Homo sapiens: one gene and its partners. The protein of the gene in region 3 interacts with the protein of the main gene of each other region in a pairwise test. Each region holds a gene or a part of one and is shown on either strand. Other genes may lie near its edges.

Evidence for each region.
Region 1: the proteins of HMBOX1 (region 3) and ZNF581 interact in binary tests that used the Homo sapiens proteins (3 or more experiments, as listed by UniProt).
Region 2: the proteins of HMBOX1 (region 3) and REEP6 interact in binary tests that used the Homo sapiens proteins (3 or more experiments, as listed by UniProt).
Region 4: the proteins of HMBOX1 (region 3) and BAZ2B interact in binary tests that used the Homo sapiens proteins (3 or more experiments, as listed by UniProt).
Region 5: the proteins of HMBOX1 (region 3) and PIAS2 interact in binary tests that used the Homo sapiens proteins (3 or more experiments, as listed by UniProt).
Region 6: the proteins of HMBOX1 (region 3) and ZBTB24 interact in binary tests that used the Homo sapiens proteins (3 or more experiments, as listed by UniProt).
Region 7: the proteins of HMBOX1 (region 3) and SH2D4A interact in binary tests that used the Homo sapiens proteins (3 or more experiments, as listed by UniProt).

What each region holds. Positions count from the first base shown.
Region 1 is NC_000019.10:55,642,429-55,646,123, reverse strand, and holds ZNF581 (zinc finger protein 581), read right to left. Parts: upstream 2,476-3,695; 5' UTR 2,350-2,475; intron 1,572-2,349; 5' UTR 1,553-1,571; coding exon 959-1,552; 3' UTR 501-958; downstream 1-500. Other genes in the region: ZNF580 (zinc finger protein 580), read right to left, coding at 3,097-3,615. UniProt on the Homo sapiens protein: May be involved in transcriptional regulation.
Region 2 is NC_000019.10:1,494,181-1,498,427, reverse strand, and holds the end of REEP6 (receptor expression-enhancing protein 6), read right to left. Parts: intron 3,135-4,247; coding exon 3,041-3,134; intron 2,960-3,040; coding exon 2,821-2,959; intron 2,144-2,820; coding exon 1,975-2,143; intron 1,838-1,974; coding exon of another isoform or gene 1,757-1,837; intron 1,255-1,756; coding exon 1,217-1,254; 3' UTR 501-1,216; downstream 1-500. UniProt on the Homo sapiens protein: Required for correct function and survival of retinal photoreceptors. Required for retinal development.
Region 3 is NC_000008.11:28,963,395-28,966,894, forward strand, and holds part of HMBOX1 (homeobox-containing protein 1), read left to right. Parts: intron 1-416; 5' UTR 417-473; coding exon 474-496; intron 497-3,500. UniProt on the Homo sapiens protein: Binds directly to 5'-TTAGGG-3' repeats in telomeric DNA. Associates with the telomerase complex at sites of active telomere processing and positively regulates telomere elongation.
Region 4 is NC_000002.12:159,386,049-159,389,548, forward strand, and holds part of BAZ2B (bromodomain adjacent to zinc finger domain protein 2B), read right to left. Parts: intron 3,438-3,500; coding exon 3,297-3,437; intron 560-3,296; coding exon 305-559; intron 1-304. UniProt on the Homo sapiens protein: Regulatory subunit of the ATP-dependent BRF-1 and BRF-5 ISWI chromatin remodeling complexes, which form ordered nucleosome arrays on chromatin and facilitate access to DNA during DNA-templated processes such as DNA replication, transcription, and repair.
Region 5 is NC_000018.10:46,907,508-46,911,007, forward strand, and holds part of PIAS2 (E3 SUMO-protein ligase PIAS2), read right to left. Parts: intron 1-3,500. UniProt on the Homo sapiens protein: Functions as an E3-type small ubiquitin-like modifier (SUMO) ligase, stabilizing the interaction between UBE2I and the substrate, and as a SUMO-tethering factor.
Region 6 is NC_000006.12:109,469,720-109,473,219, forward strand, and holds part of ZBTB24 (zinc finger and BTB domain-containing protein 24), read right to left. Parts: intron 1-3,500. UniProt on the Homo sapiens protein: May be involved in BMP2-induced transcription.
Region 7 is NC_000008.11:19,362,193-19,365,692, reverse strand, and holds part of SH2D4A (SH2 domain-containing protein 4A), read right to left. Parts: intron 1,622-3,500; coding exon 1,411-1,621; intron 1-1,410. UniProt on the Homo sapiens protein: Inhibits estrogen-induced cell proliferation by competing with PLCG for binding to ESR1, blocking the effect of estrogen on PLCG and repressing estrogen-induced proliferation. May play a role in T-cell development and function.

The DNA of each region.
Region 1 (3,695 bases), on a different chromosome or scaffold from region 3:
AGGTGAATCACCTGAGGTTGGGAGTTCAAGAACAGCCTGACCAACATGGAGAAACCCCGTCTCTACTAAAAATACAAAATTAGCTGGGCATGGTGGCACACGCTTGTAATCCCAGCTACTAGGGAGGCTGAGGCAGGAGAATCGCTTGAACCCAGGAGGCATTGCGGTGATCCGAGATTGTGCCATTGGACTCCAGCCTGGGCAAAAAGAGTGAAACTCCGTCTCAAAAAAAAAAAAAGGAAACTTGGTTCACGTGTATTTTGCTTATCTGTATACTCTATTGCCATATAAAATGTGTTTGTAACAGGAGATTGTGGTTTTAAAATTGTTTCAGTTAAAAACATTCTTCCCAGATGACCCAGGTCTTCAGGAGCTGAGGAGGGGATAACCCCAAGGCAGGCCAACCTTCCCATTCCCCAGCCAGGCAAGCTGAGGTCTCCCTGCTAGACGGCCACCAAAGAGGGTCTGAGATGCTGTCTCTAAAAACAAACCTCGAGTGCTCAGAGTGGGAAACGTGTTTATTGTTTGATCAGTCTCAGGCCTGGTTGGGGGGTGGAAGGCAGGACTGGGGTCCCTTCCCCAACAACAGCGCAGAAGCCCCAGGAAGATGGCGCAGATTCCTGACGACCCACAGCCACCTTTTATGAGGCCAGAGACTTTACACACCACACTCCCCACCTCCATCCAGTCAAGGCTCTGCCATGGAACAGCTGATATCTTTAGGCTAGAGGACTCCATTCTGTGTAGGGGCTCATTCCCATCTCAGCTCCAGAACACGGAGGACCTGAAGATTACTCACGGATTCCTCCTTCAGGCAGGGCTCTGCCTTTGAGATGCGGCTGCTCTGTGTCTGTGTCCAGGGCCCTGAACACCAGCCTCAGGCTCTCACCAGGTGTCTGGACAGGAGTCCAGGCTCCCTGCAAAGTCCTGTGGTACCTGGGGCACCCGGCAGCCCGGCTCATGGATGCTTCCACCGCGTGTGTTTCTGCAGTGTGTTCTGCTCCATAAAGCGGCGAGGGCAGTGTGGACACTGAAACGGGCGTTCCCCAGAGTGCACCCGGCTGTGCTGGGCCAGCTCACCCGCATCCCGGAAGCGGCGAGGGCAGAGCGGGCAGCCGTGGGGCCGCCCACCACCCGCCAGGTGAATGGAATGGTGCCGTGCCAAGTGGCTGGCGCGCTTGAATGCCTTCCCACAGATGTCACACTCGAAGGGCTTTACCTCCGAGTGGGTGATGCTGTGTCGCTGAAGGTAGGACATGTACTCGAAGACCCTTGAGCACACGGGGCAGCTGTAGCACTTTTTCTGGCCTGGAGCCCCACTGGCCCCTGGCTCCCTCTGTGACTCCTCGTCCACCAGCACTGTGTAGGGGACACCCTGAGTGTCAATAAGCAGGTAGTGGTTGGGCCTTGGAGGAGATGAAGCCTGGGGAGATCCGATGGAGGAGGAAGGTCCAGGTTCTGGGGAGCGGCAAGTCCGACGGGGAGGGCCCTCCATGGTCTCAACGGAGGAAAATGCCAGAGGCTGAGGGCAGGGGGATGGCAGCACCAGCATCCGGAGGGCTGGCTGAGGCCTGGTGGATGGGAGATGGGATAAGAAGGTTATATAGAAGAGGGCAGCTCAGCACCACAGGCTCCATCCTTTTCCCTCCCTATACCCGGCCCAGGACCTCTGCATCCTGCTGCCCCTCAGTCCCTCTTTTCCAGTCCCGCTCACAGCTGGAGTCTGTGGCCCCCTAAAAGGTCCCCAGGGTCTTCCTCCTTGGAAAACCTCTCCTAGCCTCGGTGCTCCACCATACACTGTACTCACAGGATCTCTTGACCTCCTCTGCACAACCTGGACCTCGCTCTAACCTTCCTCTTTGTGCCCTCCCAGGTCACTGGGTGCCCCACCCCGCAGGCCTCCAGGCCTCTCCCTCCCCTCCTTCTAGCCCTTTCCAGGGTCTGCGTGTTGGCCTATGCTACATACTCAAGCCTTTCCTGACCCCCTCCATACAAGCCAAGCCTATTCACAGGGGCTCCGACGTTAGGACCCCCAGGTTCCGGCCCTCTCTCCAGCCACGTGTCTGAACAACTCCGTGCTCCCACCCGTCCACCCACCTCAGGTTCTCTCTAGTCCTCGCCCGGCCTCCACCAGGCTCGTTCTAGGTCCCAGCGCTCTCCGGGGTTCCACCCCCGGGGCCGCAGCCCTCGCTTTCTGGGCCTTTCTGTGTAAGTTCTCGCCCCCTCCAAGCTCCAGAACAGCCCCCTCCGGCGTCTGCCCCACTCCCGCCCCGGCCCAGGTACCCTCCACGCGGTCCAGCCCCTCCCGCCGCCCGCCCCCAGCCCCCTTCCTCCTCCCGGCCCCCGTACCCAGTGCAGCAGCCTCTCAGGTCCGGGCGACTCCAAGCGGCCCCGGGCTACCCTCGCAGTTGCAGGCGGCGGCGAGAAGGGGACCTCTGGGTGTGCCCCAGGAACTGGCGGCGCCGGCCGAAAGAGAGAAGCCGAAGGGAGAGAAGAGGGTCTAGGGAAGGAAGGTTGGGGCGGGGCGCCCGGGCCGTCGCGAAACGGCTCCGGCCAGAAACACACACCGAGAGGAAAGTACCCAAGCGAGGAAGATCCGGTCTCCACCCCCCAGCACCCAACGTGCACGCACACGCAAGGAAGAGCCTGAAAATGGAGTGCGGAATGTTTATTGAGCAAAGGGTCGGGGGCGTGGGCGGAAGGGGGGTAGATACAGAAATGAACCAGACCGTGCCCGTGCTCTTTATCATCTCTTCCCCGCAGACAACCACCGGTTCACCGCTCCAGAGAGCAGAAAACCAAGGTTTAGAGAGGTCATGTCACTTGCACAGGCTCACACAGCACAGCTGGACTGGAACCCAGTTCCGACTGGTTCCCAGGCCCAGGGAGGGGCAACGACTTTGGTCTACATCACACAGCTAGAAAGGGGGTAAGGAAGGAATGATGCTCCTCCCTTTGGAAGGTGGGGAAACTGAGGCCCAGGGTAAGGCAGTAACCTCAGCAGAGCCAGGGGGTGTGTGTGGGAGTGAGTGACGCTGTGTGGGTCAGACTTGGTGGCCCTGAGACGGGCAGGGCAGCACAGGCCGGGTCTCGAGCTTAGTGGAGGCGCACGTGCTGCGCCAGCTCCGCGGCGTCCTGGAAGCGGCGTGGGCAGAGCGGGCAGGTGTGCGGCGGCCCGGCGCGGGCGCGGTGCGTGGCGCGATGCCGCGACAGGTGGCTGGAGCGCTTGAAGGCCTTGCCGCAGGCGCCGCACGTGAAGGGCTTGAGGTCCGAGTGCGACACGCGGTGGCTCTGCAGCCGCAGAGGGCTGGCAAAGACACGGGCGCACTCCGGGCAGCTGTAGCCCTTGCGAGGGCCGGGCTCTCCTGGGGGCGCCTCGCGCTGGGGCGGGCCCCGGGGCTCCTCCTCCAGCTGCACCGTGTATGTGTAGGGGACCCCATTGGCGTCGATGAGGAGGTGGCGGCCCAGCCGCGGGGGTCGGGGCCCCGCCGCCGAGGAAGGAGTGGAGGAGGGGCCTTCCGCCTTGGGGAAAGGGGGAGCCTTGGGGGGCGGTGGGTCCATGGCCTCCGGAGAGGAGGACCGAGGGTGGGGTGGCCGCGGCGGCAGCAGCAGCATCTGGAGCGGCAGCTGGGAGCGGCGGAGGGGAGATTAGTTAAAATTGCCACTTCCTTTTAGGAAAAGTTTCCTAAAATGGA
Region 2 (4,247 bases), on a different chromosome or scaffold from region 3:
CTGCAACTTCTGCCTCCTGGGTTCAAGCAATTCTCATGCCTCATCCTCCCAGGTAGCTGGGATTACAGGCATGTACCACCATGCCTGGCTAATTTTTGTATTTTTAGTAGAGATGGGGCTTCACCATTTTGCCCAGGCTGGTTTTAAACCCCTGACCTCAGGTGATCCACCTGCCTCAGCCTCCCAAAGTGCTGGGATTACAGGTGTGAGCCACCGCACCCAAATGGGGGAGTTTTAAGAGAAGCAGGCTAATGCAAATAGGCCAGACAACTAGTTCGGGAGGGAGGAGAGAAAGCACTGTGATTAAGGACAAGCTTTTCCGGGGCTTGCACCCATCCTGGCCATGTGGGTGGACCTTGAGTGGGTGAATTAGCCTCTGGGCCTCAGTCTCCTCATCTATATTATGGGGCTGGTCGGCACAGCCGGGATTCATGCCTGATGAAATGGGACGGTGCCCTCGCAGCCCCTCCCCTGGGCCCCCCGCACACGTGGCACACAGGTCTGGTCCGGGTTAGCTTTATTGGAGCCTCCTAGCAGGCCAGGTGTTTCAGGCACCAGTAGTGCTGCAGGCACGGGGGCCTGTGGTGTGGCCAGCTGCAGGTGATCTCGGTGGTGGACTCCGAAGTGTACTCCAGAGAGGTCCCGGAATGGCAGGGGACCAGCTCGGGCACTGAGGCGCTGCTGGCAGGCTGTTTCGACGATTCCTTCTGGCGCTGTCCGCTGGTCTTGGGGGCTGCGTCCTCCGGCTTGCCAGAGGACTTGCTGGGGGGCTGCGTGGGGATGTTGCTGCTGCTGGGAGACTGGACCATGGGTGAGACCGGGCTGGAGGTGACGTTGGGTGGCTGCAGGGGCCCCGAGGACGGGAGGGCTGACTGGGAGGGGCTGGAGGAAGTACCAGGCGGCTGGGTGTGTTGCCGAGACCAGTGGGAGCTGCCCTGTGCCCGACGCTGGCCCTGGGCCCTGCCGGACAGGCGGGAGCCACAGCCAGAGCCAGAGGGCAGCTGGCCCTGGGATCCAGAGCTGGGGGTGGCCGAGGACTGGGACTGGGACTTGCCCGAGGTGGCATTTAAGGAGACCCCCAGGGCCTTGCCTGGACCCGAGGGACTGGCAGGGGCTGCTGTTGGGGGATGCGCTGAAGACTCTGTGGAGGCCTGGGAGCCTGGCGCGGCCCCCTCCTCACCAGCCAGGAGGTCCTTGTGAGGCTCAGGGGGCTGCTTCACTTGTCCTTCGGCTGCGGGGTCTGGCTTGGCTTGACTGCAGAGAGAGGGGCGGGTGGGGGAGGGCCGTGAGGCAGGCCTGGGCTCCCCGGAGCTGCTCGCAGGCGGGACTGAGGCTACTGGCTATGAGCATGACAAGTCGAGGGGCCGGGCAGCCACCCTCAGCAGAGATGGTGTCAACCACACAGAGGCTTTCATGGTCACCCATGCACAGATGGGTGCACACAGAGCACACGCATGTGCAGTCATGCACACGCACGCACTCACACGTGCACACATGGTCACACGCACACACATATACTCACATGCACACGTGGGCACACACACACATATGCACACGTGAGAAAACATGCTCACTCCCTTGCTCACTCACACACCAAACATACACTTGAGCCCATGCACACGCACCCTCTTGCACATGACAAAACATGCACACACAATAATACATGTGCACACAGCAAACATACGCTCAAACACACGCGCGCGCGCGCGCACACACACACACACACAGCTCCTATCTCCCCACAGCGGTTACGTACGGTCAGCTTCCAGGGGAGTGGAGGGCCCGGCCACAGCCACCGGGGTGATGCCTGCCCGGCTACGGGCCAGGACCTGCAAGACTGGTTCCCGGAAGCGTGAGAGAGAGAGGCGGACAGTGAGAGGGGGCGGCCAAAGTCAGAAAGGGAGGCAAGGTGGAGAGAGACAGGTCCAGACCCGGGAGATGGCCTGAGGCAGCCAGGCGCCTGCGAGCACCCACCGTTCCTGGTTATTCCGGCCGCCGCGTCCAGGGCTCGCCCGCTGAGGTCGTTCATGATTCTGTCTACGGCCCCGTGGTGCCTTAGGAACAGCGGACGCACGACGCGCTGATACAGCATGAGAGCCCCGTTCCAGGGCCTGGGAGCCATGCAGAACAACAGGAAGGCGCACTGCAGGGCGGGGCAGGAGTTACACGCGGGCCCACCCAGCTCTGTGCCCCTGGTGGGGAGAGGGGCTGCACCACTCCACCAGATGCCCATCCTGGACAGGCACTGGGTCTCCACCATCAGACACCCTTTAGGGTGGGCCCGCCACCATCAGACGTCCTATTGGGATGGGCCTGGGTTTTCGCCATCAGATACCCTCTAGAGTGAGCCCTCCACCATCAGACGTCCTACTGGGACAGGCCTGGGTCTCCACCGTCAGACACACTTTAGGGGTGGGCCCTGTGCCATCAGACATATTATTGGAATAAGCCTGGGTCTCCACCATCAGACACCCTTTAAGTGAGCCCTCCACCATCAGACATCCTATTTGAGCAGGCTTGGGTCTCCACCATCAGACACCCTTCAGGGTGGGCCCTCCACCATCAGACATCCTGTAGGGTGAGCCCTCCACCATCGGACATCCTATTGGAGCAGGCTTGGGTCTCCACCATCAGACACCCTTCAGGGTGGGCCCTCCACCATCAGCCCCCGGACAGGGCTCGTTTCCCCAGGGAAGGGACTGAGTCTTCCCCTCACATCCCCCATCTCCTGGTATCCTCCGGACTTTCTGGCCCCAGCGCCTCCCAGGAATCCCCAAGCCCCATGCGCTCCACGGCTGTGCCCGCCCTGGCAGGGCCCACCTTGCCCACGTAGTAGAAAGGGAACCAGGACAGGAGTAGATCGCTGAAGAACTCGGCCAGCCCAAACAGGGCGTACACCACCCAGTAGGTGAGCCACACAGTGTCGTCGTCCTTGCTTGGGCTCTCGATAGCTTTGATTCTGCAGGGAGGGTGCAGCAGGGTCAGGGGCTGCCAGGGAGCCCCCAGAACCCCCCGCGTGGGCAGCCAGCCGTGCACTCACGAGGCATATGCGGGGTACACAAATCCGATGAGATTGCACAGCAGAGACGCTCCGTAGCCGAACAGCAGATACAGGCTTAGCAGAGTGACGGCTCCTGCCGGAGAGAGGCGGTGGTGTGCCAGGGCTGGGGACCCGCTGAGCCCCCACGACGGTACCCAGGCCGCCTTTCAGTCGACGAAGACTGCAACCGTCACCTCCTCCCAGGAGCCGCCTCCAGGATATGTCCACTGCCCCTGATGTGCCTGTACATCCCCCATCGTGCCTCTAGGCCCTGAGCCTTGTGCCTGTAACTGGTCAACGTGTCCATGTCCCCCACCGGGGTTGAGAGCTCCCCAAGGGCAGGCAGGAGCTCGACGCTGGGCAGTGGGGGTGGGTGCGGAATAGCTGCCCAGTGAAGTGTTTGCAGCCGGGCGCGGTGGCTCACACCTGTAACCCCAGCACTTTGGGAGGCCGAGGCAGGTGGATCACGAGGTCAGGAGATGGAGACCATCCTGGCTAACACGGTGAAACCCCATCTCTACTAAAAATACAAAAGATTAGCCAGGCATGGCGGTGTGTGCCTGTAGTCCCAGCTGCTGGGGAGGCTGAGGCAGGAGAATGGCGTAAACCCAGGAGGCGGAGCTTGCAGTGAGCCAAGATCGCGCCGTTGCACTCCAGCCTGGGTGAGGCTCCGTCTCAAAAAAAAAAAAGTGTAATCTGCAACGATAGCCATCTCATTCCAGGCCCTTTGGGAGGCACTGGGAAAACAGGCCAGTGTTTCAATATAAGGGATGGCAGAAACCTGCAAGGGAGGCCAGGCTGTCATGAAGACTTGATTCTAGAGCTGAGAAAGGCAACTGTTTCATCTGTTATCTTAGCGCAGGGTTTCTCTGCCTTGGCACTGCTGATGTTCAGGGCCGGGTCATTCTTGGTTGTTTTCGGTGGAGAGGGGGAAGTGGCTGTCCTGGACACTGCAGGGTGCTGAGCAGTGTCCCTGGCCTCTGCCCACTCCATGCCATCAGCCCCCAAGTCATGACGACTACAGGTATCTCCAGACATCACCCAGTGTCCCCTGGGGCGGGGTGGGGGGCAGGGCTACCCCCTTTGAGAACCTCCTGTCTTGGAGGCAGCAAACCCCAGCATCTCGATCCCCTGGGTGGAGGAGAGCCCTTTGGTCGGGTGTGCACTCACCAGCCGGCACTGAGTGAGGCTGTGGCTGCATGGAGCC
Region 3 (3,500 bases):
TCATTAGTCATTGTTGGACACTTTGGCCATGCTTAATATAATTCAGTACTGAATATGTATTTCAATGTGAGAGTTTTTGACATCAACATTTTTAACTTTTGTCTAATTTATAATCTTAGAGTTAATGGAAATCAGTGCCTCTATAACTATGGTTTTAACCAGCTAATAAGTTGTCTTCATGATCTTTAGCTTCTAAACAATGAATAGTAGATACCATTTTTTGTTAAGATCTGTGTCTGAATTGAAAGGGATCAAAGTGTATGGTGAATAAAGCAGTAGAATGCAAATCAGAAGATATAATATTTAACATGATTAGCTAGTGTTAACTCTTGCTGTCCATCAGTTACATAATTAAAATTTTTATTCAGCACTTGATTAACATAAATGTTTCTCAATTTTCTATCTTTGTTCTACAGAATGGTAGATAACGCAGATCATCTCTGGAAAGGATATTGATCCGCCTCATGTAAAGTATGCTTAGTTCCTTTCCAGTGGTGTAAGTATCAAGTCCTTTTTGATTTTTATCTTCACAATCATTTTAGTAAAGTTAAGATGTCACTATGATTATGATCCAGATTTGACAACAGACGTTTGTAGAGTTGAAAAGCTTTTTTAGAAAATGAATCAAATGTTATACCTATTTGACATTAAGGTGAATAAGTGTCATGATCATGTGGTGAGAAATGAATTTTTAAATCTATCAGCCTTCTCTTACCATTTCTGTTTTCAACTTTGAATTTTAACATTAATTTTAAATTGAATATAAAATTAATTATTATTTTTAACTGCTTAAAGCTTAGAAGCATCCAAGATAGATGACTAACAGTTCAAGAGAGCTAATATTAGATTCCTTGTGACAAGCAGACTACTGGAAGCATACATCTTCATGTTGCCTTTTGTGTAAAAACTCCTAGCACCTTAACCATTTTCCTTTACCTGCTGGGGGCATGATGATGTAGTTAAGCCTATTAGCTGATGTGCTAGCCTTTCTTTGGAGTCAGGCAGAAAATACAAATTGAGATAGTGGTATTGTGTTGAGAGTGTTTTTGTGCTAGGATATGAACTATAACCACCAGTTCATATTAAATAGGCCTTTGAATAAAAGTATTCCGGGAATTTCAGATATTAGAGAAGACAGAGTATCTATTAGCTCATTAAGTGCATCTTTAGAGTCGAATGCAGAGTGCCTTTAGCATAAGTATTTTCTAAAATTTGATGGAGTCTCCACTTTGCTTAAATTCCTTCCGTTTTGGTTGACAGTTCTATAATACAGTAAGTAAACATTAAGAGAGATTTTCCTTATTATTTAGGCTTTTCATTATAGTTCCCCCACCCCCACCCCAGTAGATTCTATGATATAGTGAAAAGTTTCTGGAACAGACCTAGAAGATGTGAACTGTAGCCCGACTTTCTGCTAAGTAGCTATATCCTTGGGAAGGCACTTCACCTCTTTGGGCCTTAGTTTCCCTCCCCACTTTTTAAAAAAATTTATTTGCTAATGGCTATTTTCAATCTATCAGCCTTCTCTGTTACCATTTCTATTTTCAACTTTGAATTTTGACATTAATTTTAAATTGAATATAAAATTACTTATTATTTTTAACTGCTCAAAGCCTAGAAGTTTCTGAGATAGATGGCTAAGCATTCAGGAGAGTTAAGACGTCTAATGGCTATTGAAAATAGTAAGATGTCTAATAGTTACTGAAATGAATGTAAGCATCATGAAGCCATGAATTTTTGCCTGATTTGTTCCTTGTTGTGTCCTCTGTGCCTTGCACAGGATCTGTTACATAGTAGGCATTCAATAAATGTTACTTAAATGAATGATTTTTGTCTAAGTGATCTCCAGTTTTCTCATTCCACACCTAACTTATATCTCCCTTTATAAATGTGCATGTTTGTACTTGGATTTTTGTCACATATGGTAGAAATAAGATGATCAAAGTATGATTTCATGAATCACAGTGTTTATTGCCATACAAAGAGAATTTTTTCTTGGGTTCACAGTACTTAAAGATGGGGAGAGTAACATAGACAGACTTCACAGGGAATACACTCAATAGATGAGGTACATTAACCACATTATGAATGTGTTCCAAAGCTATTAAAGTGTCTTTGCTCAATTATGATGAAAGGAGGCCTCTGTGTTCAAGTGAAGGCTAAAGGTGGAGGTGTACCTTTACATGAGCAGTTCTTGGGAGAGGCTGGCTTGACCACCATAGCTGAGATCTGAGACCACAAGGAAGGCCCCTCAGTGCTAGAAAATGCTGGCCTGCAAGGTATAAAAGCTTTGAGGCCTGTTGCAGCCTGAGCTCTCTGGTTTTGGAGAAGCTGCTGACAGAGAGTAGCCCTGCCACAGCCTAAGCTCCCAAAGTGTCTGTTAAGCTCTTGAGTGTATATGTATTTTGAAGTCCAGTAGTTGTGACAGTAACTCACATATGCAGTTTGACATGAGGTGACATTCCTGAGAGGATGGAGAGTTCTCTCTCTGATAAAAATATTGTGATTGACCCTAGAGTGTGTTAAATTAGCATGCAGTAAATATCATGTATGCAAAACAAAACTAACCTATTTTGCCTAGTCATTCTAGATAATAAAAATAAAGACAGCAGAATTGAGCTGAAGAAAAAGCTGTTATCCAATAAAATTTTACTGTTGGTGCTTTACAAGTAAGATAGTAATGTCCTTTTTACCTCTGTGATTTCAAGATTAATTATTTGTGAATGCTTTAATCTTCTTTGCTCTACATGTTTGTAGAATTTAGCTTATGAAAGTATATTCTAGACCTCATGCCTTATCCAAGAAGGGTTTAGGTACATATTCAAGTCAGGATAAAATGTATTGTGAAAAGTTATTATTATGGTCTTATGGTATGATATTTTCTTAGAATATCAGTTTATGAACTGAGCCATAATTCCTGAATTTAATTGTTCTTTTATGCCTTAAACACTGTCTGTTATTACAGTGGTGAAATTCTTCTCACATCATTTTCAATTATTGTTGGCCTGAGTCTGCATTCAGATTAGTAATTTAAAGTGAAAGATGTTCCTTATCCTCTGAACAATCCTTGTGCATAAGAAAATTAATTCAATTCTTACATGTTATCTTTTTCTGTTATAAAAGAATTGCTGGTATCATGGACTTAGATGACCTTTGTAGGTCATTTACTGCCATAAATTCGTGATTATATGCTTAAACTAGGTAAATTATGAGAAATAAAATTGTGAAATGCCGGAGTATATGCCTTTGTTTATATTAATACACATTGGAACATTATTCTCAATATCCAGGAGAGCTTCTAGACTCAGCGTTTTCTCAGTAAAATATTGTATCTTCAGTGTCACATGCATGCTTTGATCCTGTTTGTTATGCTCTTAATCACTTTGCTTTGTAGTGATCATATGAATGATCATTCTAGCAATTGTGGATCATTTTGCTTTAGGTTATATTTGCATTAGGAAACTCTCAGTGCAGGGCACAGACATCTAATTTGAACAAGG
Region 4 (3,500 bases), on a different chromosome or scaffold from region 3:
TGCCTTATGAATTATGAATTCTGTTGTTGATGAATATCGCTTAAGGATTTCCTTAAATCACCTTGGTCTTTGCCTACAGCTAGAGGAAAAAAGAATAACTTGAGAATGGTCTACATTCCTTAAGCTTTATAACCAGGTTTTCTTTGTATGAAGTGTAACCTGACACAAATCTACAGTTAACTTTGTGAGACATTATGTGGAAAAATTAGATCAATCTATATAATCTTCTGCTAATATGCTAAAGCTATCTACCAATGCACTGACAGTACAAATTTAAAACATTTTATATTTTGTTTTTTTTTACCTTGTATCCTGTTATTAGACCTGGATCACATACAGCAGCTGAGAGGAGCCTCACAAGCAAGTCTTGTACTTCACCCATGCTGTCCCCTATATTTAGCAATCCCTCTTGAAGAACACTCAGGTTTGGAACATCAATATTCACATCAAAGCCCAAAACTTTACCAAAGTTTCGTAAGAACTGCACCACCATGAGACAGTCTGAAAATGTACTTCCAGAGAGAACAAGTCCTGGAATACGAGGCAACTCTGGCAAAGGCTGAAAATAAAATGAAATACAAATAAAATAAAAACAGCTTAATTTTTTAAAAGCCATGATTTCGTATCTTCTAAAGTAAAATAAGCTGCTACCTTTTTTCCCCTCTTGTATTGTACCAGTAGCTTCCTTTGGGATGCTAAATTCTCTGGGGGCATTTCTGTAACCCCCATGGAACTAAGCATAGTGTCTTGAAGTATCTTCATACAAGTAAGCAACCATTAATAAATTTTGGTTGAACTCAATTATGAACTTAGATCTTTGCAAAAGAGACATTAATTTTAATCAACTTGCATATTCAATCAACTGACATATCCATATTAACAAAACATGGATTATATAACTGGAGCAAAAATTAAATAAAATATAAACATTTCAAAAGTACTTTACCATGGACATACTTATAGGGGCATGTGCACCAATTTCTTCTAATGATGATGACATTTAAAAATCACACTTTTTTTGTAGCTTAGAAACAAACAGCATGCATCTGTGGGCTCTATGGTTGGAGAAAGTGGTACCATCTATGGCTAATGAATGCAGATAAATAACTAGGTCCACATAACTAGAATCCATGACCCTGTACATAAACCCAGTTATAATGCAACTAAAGGTCTTTAGGTTTCCCTGTATTTAGGCAAGTATTAGCTTCAGTATTAAAATTAGCTATCTCTGTTGTTATTTCTCAAATATGCTCACATATTAACATTTTAATGACTTAATTGCAGTACCAGTTGTCATCAACATTTTAAAATTTCAATAAATAGGTAATCTGAATTAAAAACATTTTGCCTGTTAATGAGAGCCTAAAAAAGTACTTTAAATTTTAATTGGAAAAAAAGTGACATAAATATTTCTATTTATCTGAATTGGTCCTTGTTCAAAAATATTTCTCCACTCTGCATTTATTGAGGTAACCAATTGAAGACTTTTTCTGTTAATACTGTGTGGAAACACAAAACTATAGATAATAGCTCATCTCATACAAATATTTTATATTCTTCTTGAAAGCCAGTTAATTCTCATTCTCCCTTTTTCTTGAACCACAGGAAACATATACATTTCTATGTAATTCTAAAAATTTATGTAGCAAAGCTGAGCTATTAAAAATATGGCTTAAAATGGACTTACATATTTGATATAGTACATATGAATTTAAATGAAAATAAAAGATACAAGAAAATGAAGCTCACTTAGGATTTAAAAAGCTTGATCACTATGAGCTTATTAAATGTGTTAACTAATTTATATACCCATTCTCTGCTTAGGAAAATTTAAATATCCAAATGACTACAACTAGTAAGTATACTCTCATTTTTATTTAGAAGCATTTATGCTAAGTAAATAAATAGAATATTAATATAGTTCAATCCATTCTAGAGTACTAAAAGTTTTCTTTAAGCACTTTAGAAAAGAGCTTACATAATTGAGTTAATGGGTGCAGCACACCAGCAGGGCACATGTATACATATGTAACTAACCTGCACATTGTGCACATGTACCCTAAAACTTAAAGTATAATAATAATAAAATAAAATAAAAAAAGAGCTTACATAAATCAAGAGATAATCATTATTTGCAAATCATTTGAATATTGCATATAAGTAAATACATATCCTACTAATTAAGTATAATAATATAGAGATGAAATGCATTATTGATATTTTTCTAGAAGTACCATCTTCTTAACTATAGTCAAAACATCATTGATTTTTACTCAAAAGTATATGAAATTATGCTGGTTGCCAAGATTACAGCAATGTTTCTAAATTTATACTTTTATGTATTTCAGCAACATTACATGTCTGTGAAGCACTATGGAAGACAAAACACATATGAGGTGCTTTGGTTGGACACAGTTTCTTGGCTTTCAGGATGATAAACAGTATAGGCTCTGGAGTTTAACAAACTGGAGTTTGAATCCAAATCGCCATTTATTAGTTGTGTAATCTTGGGCAAGTTCCTTAACCTCTTTGTGTCTCAGTTTTCTCATGTATAAATGGGAAGAAATACTAACTCCACAAGATTGTATTGAGGATTAAATGAGAAAATTCAAATAAGTGCTTAGCACAGTCCTAGCATGTAGTAAACATGTTCAATAAAGGTTTGCCACCTAAAGCACTGAAGGAGGTCACAGATTATAAATCCTCATTTATTTAAATATCCATAGGGATGTGGGGAGGAGTTGAGATTTTTCTGTGCCTGGAATCCCAGAACTTTGGGAGGCTGAGGTGGCTGTATCACTTGAGCCCAGGAGTTCAAGACCAGCCAGGACAACATAAGAGTCTGCCGCTACAAAAAATTAAAATAACAAAAACCCAAAAAACTAGCCAGGCATGGTGGCAAGCGCCTGTGGTCCCAGCAACTCAGAAGACTGAGGTGAGAGGACCACTTGAGCCTGGGAACGAGAAGTTGAGGCTTCAGTGAGCTATAATCCTGCCACTGCCCTCTCTCCAGCCTAAATGACAGAGTAAGACCCTGTCTGAAAACAACCAACCAACCAACCAACCAACCAACCAACCAAACAAACAAACAAAAAAACCGCCATTACCAGCACAAGAGCTCCAGAGAGGTTTACTTCTAGCTATCTAGGAAAGGCAAATTGACCTAGAGTTGGAAATTCACTGCTATAGTTAAAAATGAAAGGCTTTCACAATAGCAGCTCTGGCAAAGAAATCAGGTAAGAAAACTGGAAAAATTAAACTTATGAATGAAATGGTGTACATGACGTATAAATTACCTTTTGGTCTGCTAAGCACATGTCTTCATTAGGCTTCTTTAGTTCCTTTGCCATTTCTAATTCTAATCTTCGCTGCTCTAGTTTACGCTCTTTATTTAATCTTTTCTCATCACGTTTTTCTTGTTTCAACCGCTCTTTTTCCTTAAAAAGAAAACCATGTACACATATTCTTCTTAATCATTATATATGTTGGAATAAACTTAG
Region 5 (3,500 bases), on a different chromosome or scaffold from region 3:
AAAAAAAGGCAGAAACAACAGAATACATATACAGAAACAGAATACAGTTGACCTTTGAATAACAATAACATATAGTTGAATATTGAATAACAATAACATATCCAATAACAAAAACCTGTGTTAGTCAAAGGTCAACTGTATCTTGTCAACTGGTTTGAACTGTGCAGGTCCACTTATACGCATATTTTTTTTTCAACCAAATGCAGATCAAAAATATGGTATTTGCAGGACGTGAAACCCACATATACAGAGGGCCAACTTTTCCTATACATGGGTTCTGCAGGGCCAACTTCAGGACTTGAGTACACATGATTTTCCTGTTGGGAGGGTGGATCCTAGAACCAATCCCCCAGGTACACCAAGGGGCAACTGTATATATACTACACAGGTTCCATTTATATAAAGTTCAAAAACAGGCAATACTAATCTGTTAAAGTTAGGATAGTAGGTCGCTTTTGGAAGAATGAGGTGAGGTTAGCCACTGGGGAGGGGAATATTTAGAGTGCTGGTAATGTTCTCTTTCTTGACCTGCACGATTATTATTTTGAGAAAATTCATCCAGCTATAATTTCATTATCTGTGTACTTCCTATGTGTATGCTATATATCAAAAGAAGTTTGGTTTTTTATTATAAAAAATATTATCTTACACAGAGATGGGGTCTCACCATGTTGCCCAGGCTGGTCTTGAACTCCTGGCTCAAGTGATGCTCCCACCATGGCCTCCCAAAGTGATGGGATTACAGCCTTGAGCCACCTCACCAGGCAAGAAGTTTGTTTATGCTAGCAGCAGCATCATCTTGTTTTAGTTACTGTAACTTTTTAACAATTTCTGTAAAAACAGACTAACGGCCCAGAGTCCAGAACCAAAGCACAGATGAGTGATGGCATCCAAACCAGTGAAGAAAAAAATTTGCATGAAAGGTGATGGAACAATTTATTATTCTTTGAGGAAAAACCATGCATCTTGGTCACCACTTCACACTGTATACAAAATCAACTCCAGGTGGATTAAAACCTTAAATGAGAAAAGGTAAAAAAAAAACAAAAACAAAAAACAAAAAAACTACGTCTTATACTTTTACAATAATGGAAAATATCTTCGAGAACTCTGTTGAAAAATTTCTTCAACAAGATTCAAAAGCACTATCCATAAAGAAAAGCCTGATAAATGCAATCACATAAAAATTAAGAACTTCTACTCATCAAAAAACGCATAAGGCTGGATGCAGTTGCTCATGCCTATAATCCCAGCACTTTGGGAGACCAAGGTGGGCAGATCACCTGAGGTCAGGAGTTCGAGACCAGCTTGACCAACATGGTGAAACCCCGTCTCTATTAAAAATACAAATATTAGCCAGGCATGGTGGCGGGTACCTGTAATCCCAGCTACTCAGAAGTCTGAGACAGGAGAATCTCTTGAACCTTGGGGGTGGAGGGTGCAGTAAACTGAGATCACGCCACTGCACTCCAGCCAGGGCTACAGAGTGAGACTCCATCTCAAAAAATAAAAATAAAAATGATTTAAAAGTGAGCCCAATTGAAAGGAGAAATTTGCACCACATGCATCCAACTGTGAAACTATTAAAAATCAGTATGAAATAATTTTTTTAAAAAACTAGTACAAACATGGGCAAAAGACATGAATAGGAATGTGAGAAAAGGGAAGAATGGCTAATCAGTATAGTAAAAGATGCTCAAACTCATTAGCAAAGCAAATGAAAACTAAAAGGTGGTATTTTATACTCGTGGGTAAAAACTTTTTTTTTTGAAACAGGGTCTCACTCTGTTGCCCAAGCTGGCGTGCAATGGCATGATCACAGCTCACTTCCTAGCTTCAGGTGATCCTCCCATCTCAGCCTGCCAAGTAGCTGGGACTACAGGTGTGGGCCACTATGCCCAGCTAATTTTGTTTTGTTTTGGTAGAGATGGGGTTTCACCATTTTACCCAGGCTGGTCTCAAACTCCTGGTCTCAAGCCATCCACCCACCATGGCCTCCCAAAGTGCTAGGATTACAGGCGTGAGCTACCATGCCCAACCGATAAAACCTTTTGAAGTGTGACAAAAGTAGATGTTAGCAAGAAAGCTGAGTAATGAAAACTTCTGCATTGCTGGAGAGAACGAAGACTGACACCACCTTTTTTGGAAGATAATCTGACATTATCCAATATTGGTGAATATGCACACATTCTTCTTAAATACCAGCAATTCTATTCCTAGAATCTCTACAGTGAAACATACAAATATTCACACTAAGTGAGATCAACAAAGATTACAATATCAGTGCAGGTCAGGGTTTTTCTGCAAGACAAGTTTGGTGAAACTTTACAGTTTTTTTCTCTTCATTTTCAAACATTTGGATTTAAGAAATATGGATGGCCAGACACAGTAGCTCACACCTGTGATCCCAGCACTTTGGGAGGCCAAGGCGGGTGGATCACCTGAAGTCAGGAGTTCAAGACCAGCCTGGCCAACATGGTGAAAACTAATAATACAAAAAAATTAGCCGGGCATGGTGCACACCTGTAATCCCGGCTACTCGGGAGGCTGAGGCAGTAAAATTGCTTGAACCTGGGAGGAGGAGGTTGCGGTGAGTCAAGATCGCGCCACTGCACTCCAGCCTGGGCAAGAAGAGCAAAACTCCGTCTCAAAAAATAAATAAATAAATAAATAAATTTTACATATGTATATATGTTAAAAGTATAAAGACAGACCAGGAATGATGAATCCAAAATTCAGTACAATGGCTACTGTCATTGGTGAAGGTGGACATGGTTGCAGTGGATGTGATCAGGAAAGTGCATCCTGCTAAAGTTACACTAATGAATTAGTAAACTGGTTGGTAATTATATGTATGTTTGTTTACATACGCCTTACCTGTTATAATCTTTTGTACTTATCAAATAACTTAAATATTTAAAATACAAAAATTAGTATGGAATACCTAAATACAAACCCACTGTTAGAGTCACCAATTCAGGGAAGTGTCTCAAGAACTCTAGAGAAATTAGCATCAGAGAAATTCAAGGTATTTCCCCATAAATCAAGGACAGGTTGCTATTTAAAAAGAAAGAAAAATGAAAGATGATAGAAGAACTCTTATAAATTAAAGATAACTACTGAAATAAATTTTATAGAAAAGTTCAAAGACAAAATCAAAGAAACCTTTCAGAATGTAAACAAATCCCGTAGATCGTAGACTACAATTGTAGATTACAATCTTCTACAGGAGAATAACCATCAGATCTGCAATGGACCTCTGATTAGCACACCAAGTATTTTAGATTCCCACAGCAAAGTTTTCAAAATTCTGAGGAATTTATAATTCCACATGTAAACTTTCAATCAGGAACAAAGACAAGCCATTTTCAACATTCGAGAACTCAGAAAGTTTATCACCAGCATATCCTTCCAGAAACAACTATTGAAGGCTGTATTCCTGTAAAATAAAAAAGGTATCTAAAAGAGAAAAACATGGGATCCAAATAACAATAGATCTA
Region 6 (3,500 bases), on a different chromosome or scaffold from region 3:
GCTGTGTTTCACTGAACATTAAAACGAGTGGCGTCAACAATTCTGAGTGCAGACAGGGTGCTGGATGGGGTGGGCAGGATCTGGCTAGACTGGAAAGAAGCCTGGGCCAGGGTACTAGTCTAAATAGTATGAGCAGAAGCTGGTGTCAGAAATGACTACACGGTGTGCACCAGTGACCAAGGATCACTGTCAGGAGTCAGGAGGCCAAGGCAACAGGAGCTATGAAATCCAGGCAGGGGACCTGTGGAGCCTCTGGAAGTTTTTAGCAGAATGACATGCTGAAAGTACTAAGAAAATACACCTGGGAATGATGAGGAGGGTGGGCTAGAGGCAGGAGGACCTCTAACAGGCTATGCACAAGGCCTGGACCAGGAGGTGGCAGGAGGCAGACGGAGAAGGATAAGGTAATAGGACAGGGCCTGAGAGGCATGGGGACCGGAAAGAAGTGTGTTACAAGAGGATTAGACAATAGCGATTAAAGGAAAAGGCAGAGACAGGAGTGTGATGAAAGGTTCCACCCAGGGTGATGTCAACAGAAGTACTGAAACAGCTCCAGGGTGTACTTCCAGACCCTCTTCTCAGCAGTTACTACACCAATCCCACCCACCCAGGGTGATGTCAACGGAAGTACTGAAACAGCTCCAGGGTGTACTTCCAGATCCTCTTCTCAGCAGTTACTCCACCGATCCCACCCCTACCCTTCCCCAGTGACTTAAATCCCGGACCCCACTCCAGATAGGATCGATGAGTCACTGCTTATTGGCATCACAGCTGGATTTCCCATGCCCACCTGCTGAAACCCAGAATAACATGGGGCATGACATGTTAATGACAACATCACCCAGCCCCTGTCCAGCCAGGCACAACAATCACAGTGACACCTCCCATTCCCTCAGCTGTCACATTCACCTGGCAGTCCAGTTCCGTCCGTGTGGACCCCTCAGCATCCTGCCTCCCACTGTGGACCACGGCTTTGTTTTTCTTAAAAAATTACTGTGTTCATTGTAAAAGAATCAAATATTGAAAATACAAAGAATATTAAAACTGCTCCACTATTCTCATCTCTTGAGACAACCAGTTAACAATGGCGAATATCTTTACAGACAAATCTGTTTATTTGCGGTCTTACTGTGTGAGGTCATCCAATGCATGCCGTTTGTCACATCAGTAAAGCCACACCACCATTTTAAAACCCTGTGCTGTGTACCATTGTGTGTACTGCCCCAAATTTACCTATCTAATCCCCTCCTGGGACATTCAGGTGGCTGTTAAGCTTGTTAAGTTATAAACAATGCTGCCTATGATGAATATCCTTAGGCAAACATCTTTTCACAATTGTGCAGTTTATGTTTTGGTAAGTATTGCAAAAGTTCCTTCCAGGGGGTTCCCAAATTATATTCCCACCAACAATAAATAAAGATGTGCATTTCCTCATGTACTTGCCAATCTTGGCAAAAAAGGGACACATGTCCATGATAACTGTGGATAGCATGGTTTGACACCTGTGTACTTGGCATTCCTATATGGTCTTCTCAGCTGTTTCCTGTCCTGTGTTCACACCTCTGCTGTGGCTCTGACCACGCCATACTGTTTCATAGTAGATGGCACGTAGACTCTGTAAGGGCATGTTATGGTGAGGGGCCCCCAGGTCTCAGGAAGATGGGAAGACCCCCAGGTCTCAACGTTAATGGATGGTCTCAACACACAGTTGAAGAGATTTGGGAAGCTTCAACTTCAAGCCACAATGAGGCTGTGAACAGAACTGTGACTTACTGAACTTTATCATTTGTTCCCTGACAGGGCCATCTACCTGTGAGTAGGAACCCTCAGGGCAGAATCAGTGTTTATGGAACACCATCCAGGAACAGGGACACTGGCGGGGTGGGACTGTGCTGTGGGGTCAGAGGTCACTCACCAGGCTTCTCTGTGACCTGGGCTAATTCCCTTGACTTGTTCCCAGCTCACCATGCAATCTTCTGATCACTAACTTGGCTTTCGGGTCACTAATGTGAGGAAGGAGGTGCTGTGGGCAACAGAAAGGTGTAATCCCTCTATTGAGTTGATATATCCTCTGGTTTATCTGTCCTGTGAACTCATTTGGCTTGATTGGGTCCCTGTAAACCTGACCAGTGCCAGGTATGGGGACAAGATGTGAGCAGAAGGGCCTGAGATGTGGTGACCTGGCAGGTACTGCTTGTCTGCCTGACACTTTGCCTCCATGTCAAAATGTGTTCACCTCCCTCACTGGGGATGCACTCCTAGGAAAGGGAACATCTCTAATTTGCCTTTGACTTCTCCAGTGCTTGGTGCAGGACATCTAACCCAGAGAGTTTGTGCCTAAAGATCTAAGAGATGAATGACAGCTCATCTCTAAGAGATGAAGTCTTGGTTTCCAGCTGAGCATGGCCCTGAGAGTAGGACTGGCACTTCTCACTCTGAATGCCCAGGGAGCAGGGAAATGGCACGCCAATGCCCTTCACCAACATTCAAGCAGATTCTCCATGCTGATGCTAGGGACAGATGGGTCATAGTTGCTGCTCTTGAAGAACCCCAATTTTTTGATAGGTTCAATTTCTTTTCATATTTCTAAGTCATGCAAACCACAGAGGCCCGTCTGTCTCCTTTTTAACTCATCACACATCTTCCACTTTCTGTTCTGCTTCTCAAAGTTGACAGGCTGAGAAGAGTTTGCTGGAATTATAGTGGGGGAGGTCTTCTGTTCCTTTTCATCCCCACTTCAAGTCCTACTGCTACTCACAAAGCCCAGAAACCTCACTCCCCCTTATGCTCAGGCAACAGAACCAAGGGGAAGTGCCTCTTCTGGCACTGCTCAGCATGACCAAGCCAGCTCCACGCTCCTCCACCACCGCTGTCTCCCTAGGGAACTCAGCACAGCGCCACCCACTATTTGCAGGCACATGTGCACCTGTGGAAATCCAGAGCTCTGGCTGCATCTCTCCCCCGAATTCTCCAGACCTGGAAATCTAATGATCTACCCCACACCTGCACATGGATGTCAAATAGACACCAACCAGTCCACAATCTAACTCCTGATCTGTTCTTCTTAGTCTTCCCTAGCTTTTCCTCCTCACAGTGGCTTTTGCCTCCTCTTTCAACTCCCACATCCAATCATGAGCGAATCACATGAATTCTTCCCTGGACTATCTCCAGAACTGGACCACCTGACACCACCTCTGCTGCTACTGTGCTGTTCCGAGCCCCACTACTGCACAGCCTCCTGATGGGTCTCTCTGCCTCCACCCTGGCCTCGCCCCCACCTCACAGGGTGGCTAGAGTGACCCTATTACAACCCTAAGTCATGCCATGTCACTCATCTCAGTAAAGCCATCTCCCTCAGAATAAAATCCAATCTTTACTGTGGCCTTCAAAGTACTTCAGCCCGAGTGCACCCTACAACTGTTGAGGGGTACTTTAAAAAACACCAATTCCCAGGCTCTGCCCAGGTGAAGTCAATCAGAATCTTGGCAGCTGGGACAAGG
Region 7 (3,500 bases), 9.6 Mb from region 3:
GAAAAAATGAGCTAACTGAGCACAGCTGAAAATAGGAATTGCCCTTTTTTAAAGACCACCTTCATTGCTGTCAATCAAATATACTGTCCTTCAAAATGCTGTGGGACAGGGACATCTACAAGTCATTTCCATGCTACCTTTGGAAGAGACGGTGAACAGGAGTTAGCTGCAAAAACATCCCTGCTGAGGCTCTGTCGCCAACGTGCGGACAGACAAGCTCCAGCACTTAGAGCCGTGTGCACCTTTGTCAGCTGTTCTCACAATTAAGAGACTCCTATTTCCTGACTACATTTCTTGCTTTGTTGTCGGTAAGAGAAGAATCATTACCCAAACGATCACTTTGGAGATCATGGTCTTTACTGTAATTATTTCCACTTACTCCACTGAGTTCCACGTTGGTCCCCACTTCCCGAAACGGAACTTTCCAGTAGAGTAAGTAGAAATAATTACAGCAAAGAAAAACATCCGCCTTTGTGTTTCCCCTGAGGTCATCACTCCTGTTTAAAGACAACCTTGAAGATAACTACGACTCCAAGCAGGAGAAGAGTCTTATTTTTCATTTCTCCATAATCTTAGAGAAGTATTTCAAATTATTTTTAGTTTTTATTTCAGAATGCAAGGCTTTAGACAATTCTGTTTCTTTCAATCAACATTTGATTTTAATACTTCTTTCTAAATACTAGGATGTTAAAAATAAGATCAATAACCAGAAAAAAATTTAGAATCAGCAAACATAAGGGATGGGGGTTTAATAGCATCATTGCACTTTTCTACAGTTTTTCCAGAACAAATGGTTCTTCCTAATTCTTCCACAGCCTAGCAGACAATGGTATCTCCACCACCAAATAGACAATTCATCTAAAAAAGGAGGCTTTCCAAATTCTTAAAAGAGGAACTTGGCTATGTATCCGTGAATGAGAATTACCATCAAACCTTTAATCCTTGGCAGTGAAAATGTACTCCCACTGATCACACGAAAGTCAGCAAGCCTTTGGGTTCCTACTTTGATAATCTTTGACTAAGGGTGATCTTGGGCATCAGTGAAACCCCACTTGTTTCCTCTTCTCCCCTCACTGGCTCACCGGCTGCCTCTGGGGGGGAGGGGGGCGGGGGAGGGAAAGGGGAGAGTGGGGTAGGGACACGGGAAGTTCTCTCATTCCATGCACAGCTTTACTATTTCACTGGGTATACTAAGTATAACAGCTATGGACATTTGACAGCTAAAAAAGGGAGGAATGCCCGCCCAGATCACCCAGGAAGAAGGCTTAGACATGAACCTGAGCTACTTACACAGGCTGCCAGTTGGCCCTCCACACCCCATGGCAGCTCATACAATTCCCCTTTAATTTCAACGCTTATTCAAAGCCCATTGCAATGTTTATGCATAAACCCATCTGTGTGGCTTCTTACCTAAGAGGTTTTTGAGGATATGCCCCTGAGTTTAGGAACTGAGGCTTGGGTGGAAGGGGAGGTCTTTCTGGTTTCTGCGGAACACGCAAGGGGCTTTGCAGCCTCTCACCGCCTCTTCCTTTCTGGGCCCCGAGGGATAACCTCTTGTAGTCTTCTCGTGCTTGTTTAGCCAAGGAGCGTCTCTTCTCATCAGCTGCTTTGGATTTTCGCACTGGAAAAACAACGGGGTCGGAGAAAACCCTCATCAGCCCACAGAGCAGGTGAGAAGGCTCAGCATTCATTGCACAACGGGCAGCAGCGCAGGTTCTCAGCAGTTTGTTGTCTGCTTATAATAAGGAACAATCATTATCAACACCTATGATCCAGGCCATTAGGGCTTGCCCAGCGTTCGCTGCAGGATTCCTCTCTTCATACAGGACTGGGGGTTTTCTGAGAGGGAGAGAAAAGGAAGAGGAGGAAGAAGGGATGAGAGAGAAGTAGAGAAAGTGTGCAAGAATTTCCTGCAGTTGGCAAGACCAAGTGAGGATCCCCCGCCTGAGCATGGGTTCAAGCTGGCAGGGGTGCTGAGTAATAAGAGGCAATTGTCACGCCCTGCATGACTTATGTTCAGATGCAGTGTGCTTGACTCACTAGCAGAGATCAGGACTACTCAGTGGCATGGGGCTGTGCATAGGGTGAAGGAGCAGAGAGCAGGACAGAATGAGAAGCAACCTGACAGACAAAAAATTAAAGGGATGCTTAACCACAGGTAATTGTAGGACACATTAGTACACAAAAAAGTACCCCAAGTCTGCCTTTTAATATTACAGTCACTAGTGACTTAATGAGAGAAATAAATCCTGAGAAATGCATCATAAGGCAACTGTAACACAAGAGTATTTGTGTGTCTAAATACCCCCAACATAAGGCCGGGCACAGTGGCTCATACCTGTAATACCTGCACTTTGAGAGGCCAAGGTCGGTGGGTCACCTGAGGTCAGGAGCTTGAGACTAGCCTGGCCAACATGGTGAAACCCCAACTCTACTACAAATACAAAAAATTAGCTGAGCATGGTGGCAGGCGCCTGTAATCCTAGCTACTGGGGAGGCTGAGGCGGGAGAATCCCTTGAAACCAGGAGGCGGAGGTTGCAGTGAACTGAGATCACACCATCGCACTCCAGCCTGGGTGACAAGAGCGAAACTCCATCTCAAAAAAATAAAAATAATCAATACCCCCAACATAGCAAAGGTATAGTAAAAATATGGTATAGAGGACAAAAAAAAATGGTGCCTCTACATAAGGCACTTACCATGAATGGAGCTTGCAGGACTGGAAGTTGCTCTGGGATGAGTCAGTGAGTGAGTGCTCAGTGAATGTTAAGACCTAGGACATTACTACACACTGATGTTGACTTTGTAAACACTTTACACTTAGGCTACACTACATTTATAAAATTTATTTTAAAAATGTATGCAACCCATTATTTTGGGGTTTTATTATTATTTTTTGGTTTTCTGTATGTGTGTGTCTGTGTTTTTTTTGTTTTGTTTTGTTTTGTTTTTGAGACTCAGTCTTGCTACATTGCCCAGGCTGAAGTGCAGTGGTACGATCTCGGCTCACTGCAACCTCCGCCTCCCTGGTTCAAGCAATTCTCCTGCCTCAGCCTCCTGAGTAGCTGGGACTACAGGTGTACGCCACCACAACCAGCTAATTTTTGTATTTTTAGTAGAGATGGAGTTTCACCATGTTGGCCAGGCTGGTCTTGAACTCATGACCTGAAGTGATCCACCCACCTTGGCCTCCCAAAAGGCTGGGATTACAGGAGTGAGACACAGTGCCTGGCCTAAAAACTATATGCGACCCATCGTTGACCAAAACATCATACAGCGCATGACTACTTTGTAAAACAGAATTTTTTGTTATAGCAATGAGACTCAAATGCAGAATGTAAAAATGATTTTTATTGACTATATTTACACTTCAGGCAGTATTGGTCAAATCCTGTTATACTTGACTTCAAAGAGACACCCAAAATATTCCCTTATGCTAGGATTTCAGTGCATAGTACAAAGAGCCTACTGGATCTTGCAAATATTTTCATTTCACAGT